2 linked regions of the Homo sapiens genome follow. The protein of the gene in region 1 purifies or fractionates together with the protein of each later gene. This does not show direct contact. Each region holds a gene or a part of one and is shown on either strand. Other genes may lie near its edges.

Region 1 (3,500 bases):
CCTCAGCTCCAACCTTGCCATGGGGCCTGGCAGGAATGTCCCAGAGGAGTCTTGCTTTGGTTTGGTAAGTAAGGCAGGGGACAGAGTAAGCTCGAGACATAAAGGAGAGAAGGCCTGGATCCAGGGCTCAGAGCTGCAGGCTGGGAAGTGGTTTGCCCATCTTGTAGGGCAAATCAGCAGTGACTTCTAGATCTTACTGCGCTTCTACCCTTTGACCTTACCACTAAACTTCTCAGCAGAAAGCAAAATGGACAGCCTTGGGGCCCAGAATACACAATGTGATCGACTGAATATTTGTGCTCCCCTGAAATTCACATGTTGAAACTCTAACCCCTAATAGGAGGGTATTAGGAGCTGGGGTCTGGGGGAGGTAATTAGGTCAGGAGGGAGGAGCCGTAGTGAATGGGATTGATGCCCTTATAAAAGAGACCCAAGAGAATGCTCTAGCCTGCTTTGCACCATGTGAGGATACAATGAAAAGTCCGCCATCGGCAACCCGGAAAAGGGCTCTTGCCAGAACCCGACCATGCTGGCACTCTGATCTCAGACTTTAGTCTCCAGAACTGTGAGAAATAAATTTCTATTGTTTAGAATCCAGCCAGTCTCTGGCACTTTGTTACAGCAGCCCCAATGGGCTAAGACACACAGAGTCTTGGATAAAGAAATTCCAGCAGCGGTCTTTAAACACCCTAGACAGCCATAATAAAGTTTGGTGTAACCACGCTGTGGGATTATGTACAGGAAAGGGACTTATTTTTTGTTGACGTGGCTGTATCTTCAAGATGTATCATGGAATAAACAAGACACATTGTATAATGATATGCACAACATGATATCACTTGTCTCAAAATACACATCAACAAACAGCAATACTGTTTCTTCCCACAGGTCGATAATAGCATGTTTTATAACTTAGAGGCTAAGAGCATGAATTTCGGAGCAAGGCTGCCTAGATTTGGGACTGACCTTTCCACCAACTGCAGGCTGGGTGACGCCAGGCCAGTTACATAGCCTCTCTGGGCCTCAATGTTCTCATCTGTAAAATGGGGATAAGAGCAGCACCTACCTCACAGAGTTATTGTGGGGCTTAAATATGTAAAGCTCTTAAAGCAGTGCTTGGAAGTTAGTAAGCCCTATATAAGAATTATTTTTATTATGTGAAGGTTTAGATAAAGTTCTGGAAACATATCAAATAGGGGTTACTGCAGGAGAGGGGACAGGCATGGGGCTGGAAGCAGTGAGTAAAATAGATATCAGCTTTATGTATAAAAAGTTTAACTTTCTGCAAGGAAGACTGATTCGTGTCTTACTTGTGTGGTTTAGAATTAATACATTTTTTTAAAGTAAAAAAAAAAAAAAAAAGACATCAGTGACTTGAGGCTGGGCCCTTTGAATTTAGCAGAATTTTGCCTCCAGACTGGATCATCTGAACTGCTCCCTCCCATCCTGGCAGACATTGCCAAACCCATAAAACTGGGGCAGAAGAAAGGTTGGAGGGGCTAGACGGCTAGAGCCTTGGTTTTGGGTCTCACTGACCCAAAACTGACTTAGAGGCTGACATCCGGACAAGTCCCAGCTCCCTTTGGGCCATGGTTTGTGTATATGTCAAGCAGGAGTAATGCTTTGTATGCAGCCCATCTCACAGGGAATTGTGGAGCTGTTAAAAGAGCCTCTAATGCTGGGCATAGTGGCTCACACCTGTGATCCCAGTACTTTGGGAGGCTGAAGCAGGAGGATCGCTTGAGCCCAGTAGTTTGAGACCAGCCTGGGCAACATGGAGAAACCCCATCTCTACAAAAAGTACAAAAATTAGCCAGGCATGGTGTCGTGTGCCTGTGCTCCTAAGCAACTGGGGGTTGGGGGACAGAGGTGGGAGGATCACTTGAGCCTGGGAGGTTGAGGCGCAGTAAGCCGTGATATTGTGACTGCACTCCAGCCTGGGTGACTGTGAAAGACCCCCATCTCGAAATAAAATAAAAGAACATAATTTTTGAAAAAAGATCCTCTGGGGTCAGGAGGGCTGGGTTTAAATCCTGATTTCAACATTTTAGTGCTGTGCAACCTTGGACAGTTTTCTTAACCTCTCTGTGCCACTGTTTTCCTCATCTGGGTGGTGATTTTACATTTACTTCACAGGATCACTGTGAGGGTTGGAGACATTAATACTACAGCACAAGGAGGGGACATGTCCAGTCCGCAGCCAATGCTCATTGGCTGTTATGTACTGAGTTCCCGGCATAGGCTGGGCATCAGGCTACAGTATTCCACCTGCACCTCCCCATTAGAATCTCAAGCAATATTTCCAGGCACGTTTCCTGCATTTCATAGATGAAGAAACAGGCTCCAAGAAGTCAAGCAACAAAAGGTGGATTTAAAATCTATGCTGGCCGGGCACAGTGGCTCACACCTGTAATTCCAACACTTTGGGAGGCCGAGACAGGCAGATTGCTTGAACCTGGAAGTTCGAGACCAGCCAGGGCAACATGGTGAAAATCTGTCTTTACAAAAAATGCAAAAAAATTAGCCTGGCATAGTGGTGTGCACCTATAGTCCCAGCTATTTGGGAGGCTGAGGCAGAAGGATCACCTGAGCCCAGGAAGTTGAGGCTGCAGTGGGCTGTGATCACACTACTGCACTCCAGTGTGGGCAACAGAGTGAGACACTGTCTCAAAAACAAAATAAATAAAACAATAAAATCTATGCTGATTCCAGAGGCCATTTCCTAACTGAAATATAATACTGCTTTCAACAAATGGTCGTCTTTTAAAACTAAATTATCATTTTATTATGTCTTTATTATTTTTCCTGTTTACGAACATAACCTGTACTCATTTGGAAAGTTCTAAATATTCTGGAAGTATACATTATGAAATTTCCCCCACAAACTCACCCTCTAGGGGTAAGTGTATAATTTCCAAAACTCTTTACTCATGTTTGAGATTTTTTTTGACTTATCTGAAAGCCAGAACACCATTTCCTTAAAGCTTTTCTAGAAACCATGTCACTTTTAACTTTATTTTTTGAAGTACCACTTGCCACGAACTGAAGGTATCATCGAAAAGAAACTCAAGGGTGGGGCATGGAGGCTCACACCTGTAATCCCAGCACTTTGGGAGGCTAAGGCAGGAAAACTGCTTGAGCTCAGGAGTTTGAGATCAGCCTGGGCAACGTAATGAGACCTCGTCTCTATCAAAAATAAAAACAAAAAACAATTAGCCAGGTGTGGTGGTGCGCACCTGTAGTCCCATCTACTTGGGAGGCTGAGGCAGGAGGATCGATTGAGCCTGGGAAATAGAGGCTGCAGGAAACTATGCACGGAGCTGTGCAACCAGTGCACTCCAGCCTGGGTGACAGAGTGAGACCTTGTCTAGAAAAAAAAAGAAAGAAAGAAAGCCAAGGAAAACAAAAAACACTATGATGCTGTTGAACTGTAGCTGGGTATTGCTGCAGACCCAGGGCTCTGACCGGAGGCCTGGCCTCCCCTTGCTGAAAATATCAAG
Region 2 (4,018 bases), on another chromosome or scaffold:
GATTCAAGCATTGACACTGACTAAAGAGAAGGTCCCGTTAGAGCGAAATGCTGGATCCCCAGTGTATATGAAAGGTGTCACTAAGTCTGGGATTCCAATTTCCTGGTACCGAGATCTGCACGATGTTCCAAAAGGTAATTACCTTTATGTGGATTAATGAAAGAATTTTGATCACAACCCTCACAGTATTGATGGGACTGTAACTTTTTACAGCAATATAATAGATTGAGTTACTGCTGCCAAGTCCCTTATCCATAGAGAGTAGCCTACTTTTTTCTAGAAAAGAGCATCTTAATAGAAAATAAAGTTGCCTGACATTAAGTAGTAGTTTATTTCATGAAGCTTTGTAAAATCCCAAACAAAATGTAAATCTCCTTTGTACTTTTGAGTATTTCCCTATAGCTAGGGTTGTACCGATGACGGAGCAGCCCAAGGCAGCTGGGGCTGATGGAAGCAGTGTTAGTAGGTGGGTTTAGTTCAGTTATAGAGTCTTTTAAAAAATCCTTACTTGCCTAAAGACAAGCAAGGTGTGGGGGAAAATCCCTGTACTAGTCAGGAATACTGACTAGTATTGACTAGTTTGAGTCTTGACTCAAAGCCAAAGTGGGGGTACGATCTTGGGTAAGGGATCTCAAGCCATTCCTGCCTCAGCCTTCTCAGGCTGAGAAGCCCGATTTTATGAAATCAAATTCCCTTCCAGCTAACAACTCTGACTTCTAATTTCTTTCAAGCCTTGTGATGAATAAAAGCTTTAACTGCTATTTCAGGTATTTCCATTTTCTGACCCCATTTATGTGTAAAATAAGAATAGTAATAATTGTTCTATGTTCTGCAGTGTAAGTTTTCCATGAAGAGGTAGATAATTCTGTGGTAGTGATGATTATGGAGGAAGTAGGCATTTTTTTTACAGTTAATATTCAAAAGAATTAATTCCTGTGAAATGTGGAAACATTAATTGTTTTCCTCTTTTTAAATAGGGTACAGCTTTTATCTTGCACATGAATTTTTTGATGTTCTTCCTGTGCATAAATTTCAGGTATTGAGGGGGGAAAAAAGTCATGTCTATAATTGAATACAAAAGGCATTGTGTTGCCAATGTTTATGGTATTTATTCAGTATACAAATTTTACTTGTTGAGGTTATTTTTAACTATTATTTGGAATTTTGGTACACAAATAATTCAAAAGCAAAAAATGAAATATTAATGAGAATTGTTAGTTCTCCTGGGATAATTATTAAGAATTCTTAATTCTTCTGATTTGAAGAAGTAAGGGAATGAAAAATGGTAAGATGGTAACTGGCTGTGGTGCAATGAAGGATTTACTTAAGCAAAAAAAAAATTTTCTTTTTTAAGAGATAGGGTATTGCTATGTTGCCCAGGCTGGTCTTGAACTCCAGGGCTCAAGTGTTCATCCTGCCTCAGCATCCCAAGGAGCTGGGACTACAGGTGTGCGCCACTGCACCCAGCCAACCTTAGCACATTTTAAAAAATTATAGATTAAACTTTTTTGGGCCAGGCATGGTGGCTTACACCTGTAATCTCAGCACTTTGGGAGGGCGAGGTGGGTGAATCACTTGAGGTCAGGAGTTCAAGACCAGCCTGGCCAACATGACAAAACCCTGTGTCTACTAAAAATAGAAAAATTATCTGGGCTTGGTGGCACGTGCCTGTACTTCCCAGCTACTAGGGAGGCTGAGGCATGAGAATCACTTGAACCCAGGAGGCAGAGGTTGCAGTGAGCTGAGATTGCACCACTGCACTCCAGCCTGGGCAACAAAGCGAGAGCTTGTCTCAAAAAAAAAATAATAAAACTTTTCTTCATTCTTTCTGTGAGGAGATTTAAGATTTGGTGATAATGTATATGTACTGGTAATTTGTGAGGAGAAGAGCAGCTCTCATGATCCTGTAGTAATTTGTTAGTAAAGCTTCTGGCTGTTCTTCCTGAGTCTATTTCCGTTTTTGGGGTACTTTCCATGCTGCTGATTTTATCTTCCACAGCGTCATCTCTGTTATTGTTTCTTTTGCATCGATTGGTCTACTCATTGTTCAAAGGCAATGAAGTAATGAATTTAAGTAATTTTAAATAGTAAGTTCTCTGTAAATGTTAGTTACTTATGGTAAGAGGAGAAAAAGCTATTTTTGGTAGAAGCAATGTAGAGAACAAACTTGCAAAAATTTGTTTTTATGTGTTATTTTGTGTTTAGAAAACACCACAGGGATGGCGAGAAGTATTTGTTGACATTGATCCACAGGTTTCTGATAAACTGAGGTTTGTTTTGGCACCTTCTGCCACCCCAGCAGAAGCCTTCATACAAGTAAGAATATGCTTTTTTAAGTTTCTTTTATTGCTCACAGAATCTTCAAAGTCTTATTTTCTGAGTTACTACTTTAGAGTTTTAGAGTTCCTTTACAGGAAGAGTTGCTAGTAGCATACGAGGTGCTTTTTATTGACAGTGAAAGTGCAGAGGAGCTAGAGGCAGGAGCATGGGTTAAAATCATTTCTTAAGTGTGTGACCTTAACGTCATGTAGTAAGAGAAAGTAAGTAACCGCTTACTCAGCCAAGTCTCTTACTTTCACTGCTTATCTCAGTTTCATGTCAAATGGTAATGGTATTGTCCACAGGAAGAGTTTACATCTGTGAAAGCAATGTAGTACAGACTATAGTAAATTAACAATAACAGCTAACGTTTGTTGAGTACTTTGTGTTACTCTGTTTTCTCATTTAATTCTCAAAGCAACTATATTAGGTAGGTTCTATTATTATCCTTCTTTGGGCTACAGCATGGCTTTTATCCCATGCTTCCACACAGATCTCAGTTTGATTCGGCCAGAATGGTAGAATTACTACTGCTTTCTGTTGATCTCAAGGAATCATTGCAAGAGCCTGTCTATTGTGGCTTGTTTAAAGGTACAAAAAAATCCCTGTACTTCTCAGGAACGTCCAGGCTTCAGACTGCCTCTTTTTTTTTAATCCTTTTTTTCCAGCTCAGAAGATGATTTTTACTTTCTGGACCTTAACTGAGAACTTCTTACTTAGAAATTATCAGTTTTAAAAGCACAAGAGCTTTTAAACTTAAATGTATGAATTAAGTTTTGTTAAGTATAAATTTAAATGTCAGACTGAACACTTATGAACACCTGTTTTTTCATAGTATAGCAATCTAAGTTTACCTGAATGACATATTCATAGAACTACCAAGAACTAACCTCCTGGCCCTGGGAGTTCATTTAGTTCTTGACCTAATTAGTATTCACTTAGGAAGGGAGGGAGCGAATATTCTCTTTCACTTGAATGAGATGCGTGGTAATACATGTCATCTTGAAGAGTAGCCTAAGATAGAATGTCAGCATGATCAGCGTGTCCACTGATGCCTGATGAGGCTGACTTCATGGTTTTTATAGTTAAGCCACAGTAATTTGATTGCACTATTAGCTAAATGGTTAGTTATATTTAATCCTCACAATAAACCTACAATATCTATAAGGAAGAAAACAACTCAGAAAGTTTAAGTAACTTGTCTACCAGTAAGCATAGGAAGAGCTGAGATTTAACTTCATCTGACTCTATGCCTGTTACCATAGGCAGACATCAGGGCAGGTCATTACTGCATTTCTATAATAAGGTGTTAGGAAGGAGTACAAGTTAATGTATGTTTTCATAATGAAGGGAAAGAAATACCACATTTTCAATCAGATCAGGAAGTAGTGAAATTTCATATATACTAGTCAGGTTGACAAGTGTTAATACTTAGTGTGATTTTGCTTTTTAAGCTAGTACACACTTATTGTGGCCCCTTAGTTAAGTGGACATCTTGGGGTAATAACGGTTTCAATACATTGGCACTAGTTTATAAGCCAGCGTTTCTTGATGTAGGGCATATCATTGGGATACTTTCTGGCACAACAGAGGGCATGATAATATAATTGTCTAATAGGGTCTGCTTCGTGTTATTGGATTTATACCATTTGTTCTTTCAGCACAATATTTTCATTGACTGTTATGTGCCTGGCACTGT

What was found.
Region 2: the proteins of NLRC5 (region 1) and NDUFAF7 purify together in Homo sapiens (affinity purification with mass spectrometry; one large-scale study listed by BioGRID and IntAct). This does not show direct contact.

Annotation. Positions count from the first base shown.
Region 1 is NC_000016.10:56,996,057-56,999,556, reverse strand, and holds part of NLRC5 (protein NLRC5), read right to left. Parts: intron 1-3,500.
Region 2 is NC_000002.12:37,241,658-37,245,675, forward strand, and holds part of NDUFAF7 (protein arginine methyltransferase NDUFAF7, mitochondrial), read left to right. Parts: coding exon 1-134; exon of another isoform or gene 135-767; intron 768-977; coding exon 978-1,036; intron 1,037-2,205; coding exon 2,206-2,316; intron 2,317-4,018. UniProt on the Homo sapiens protein: Arginine methyltransferase involved in the assembly or stability of mitochondrial NADH:ubiquinone oxidoreductase complex (complex I).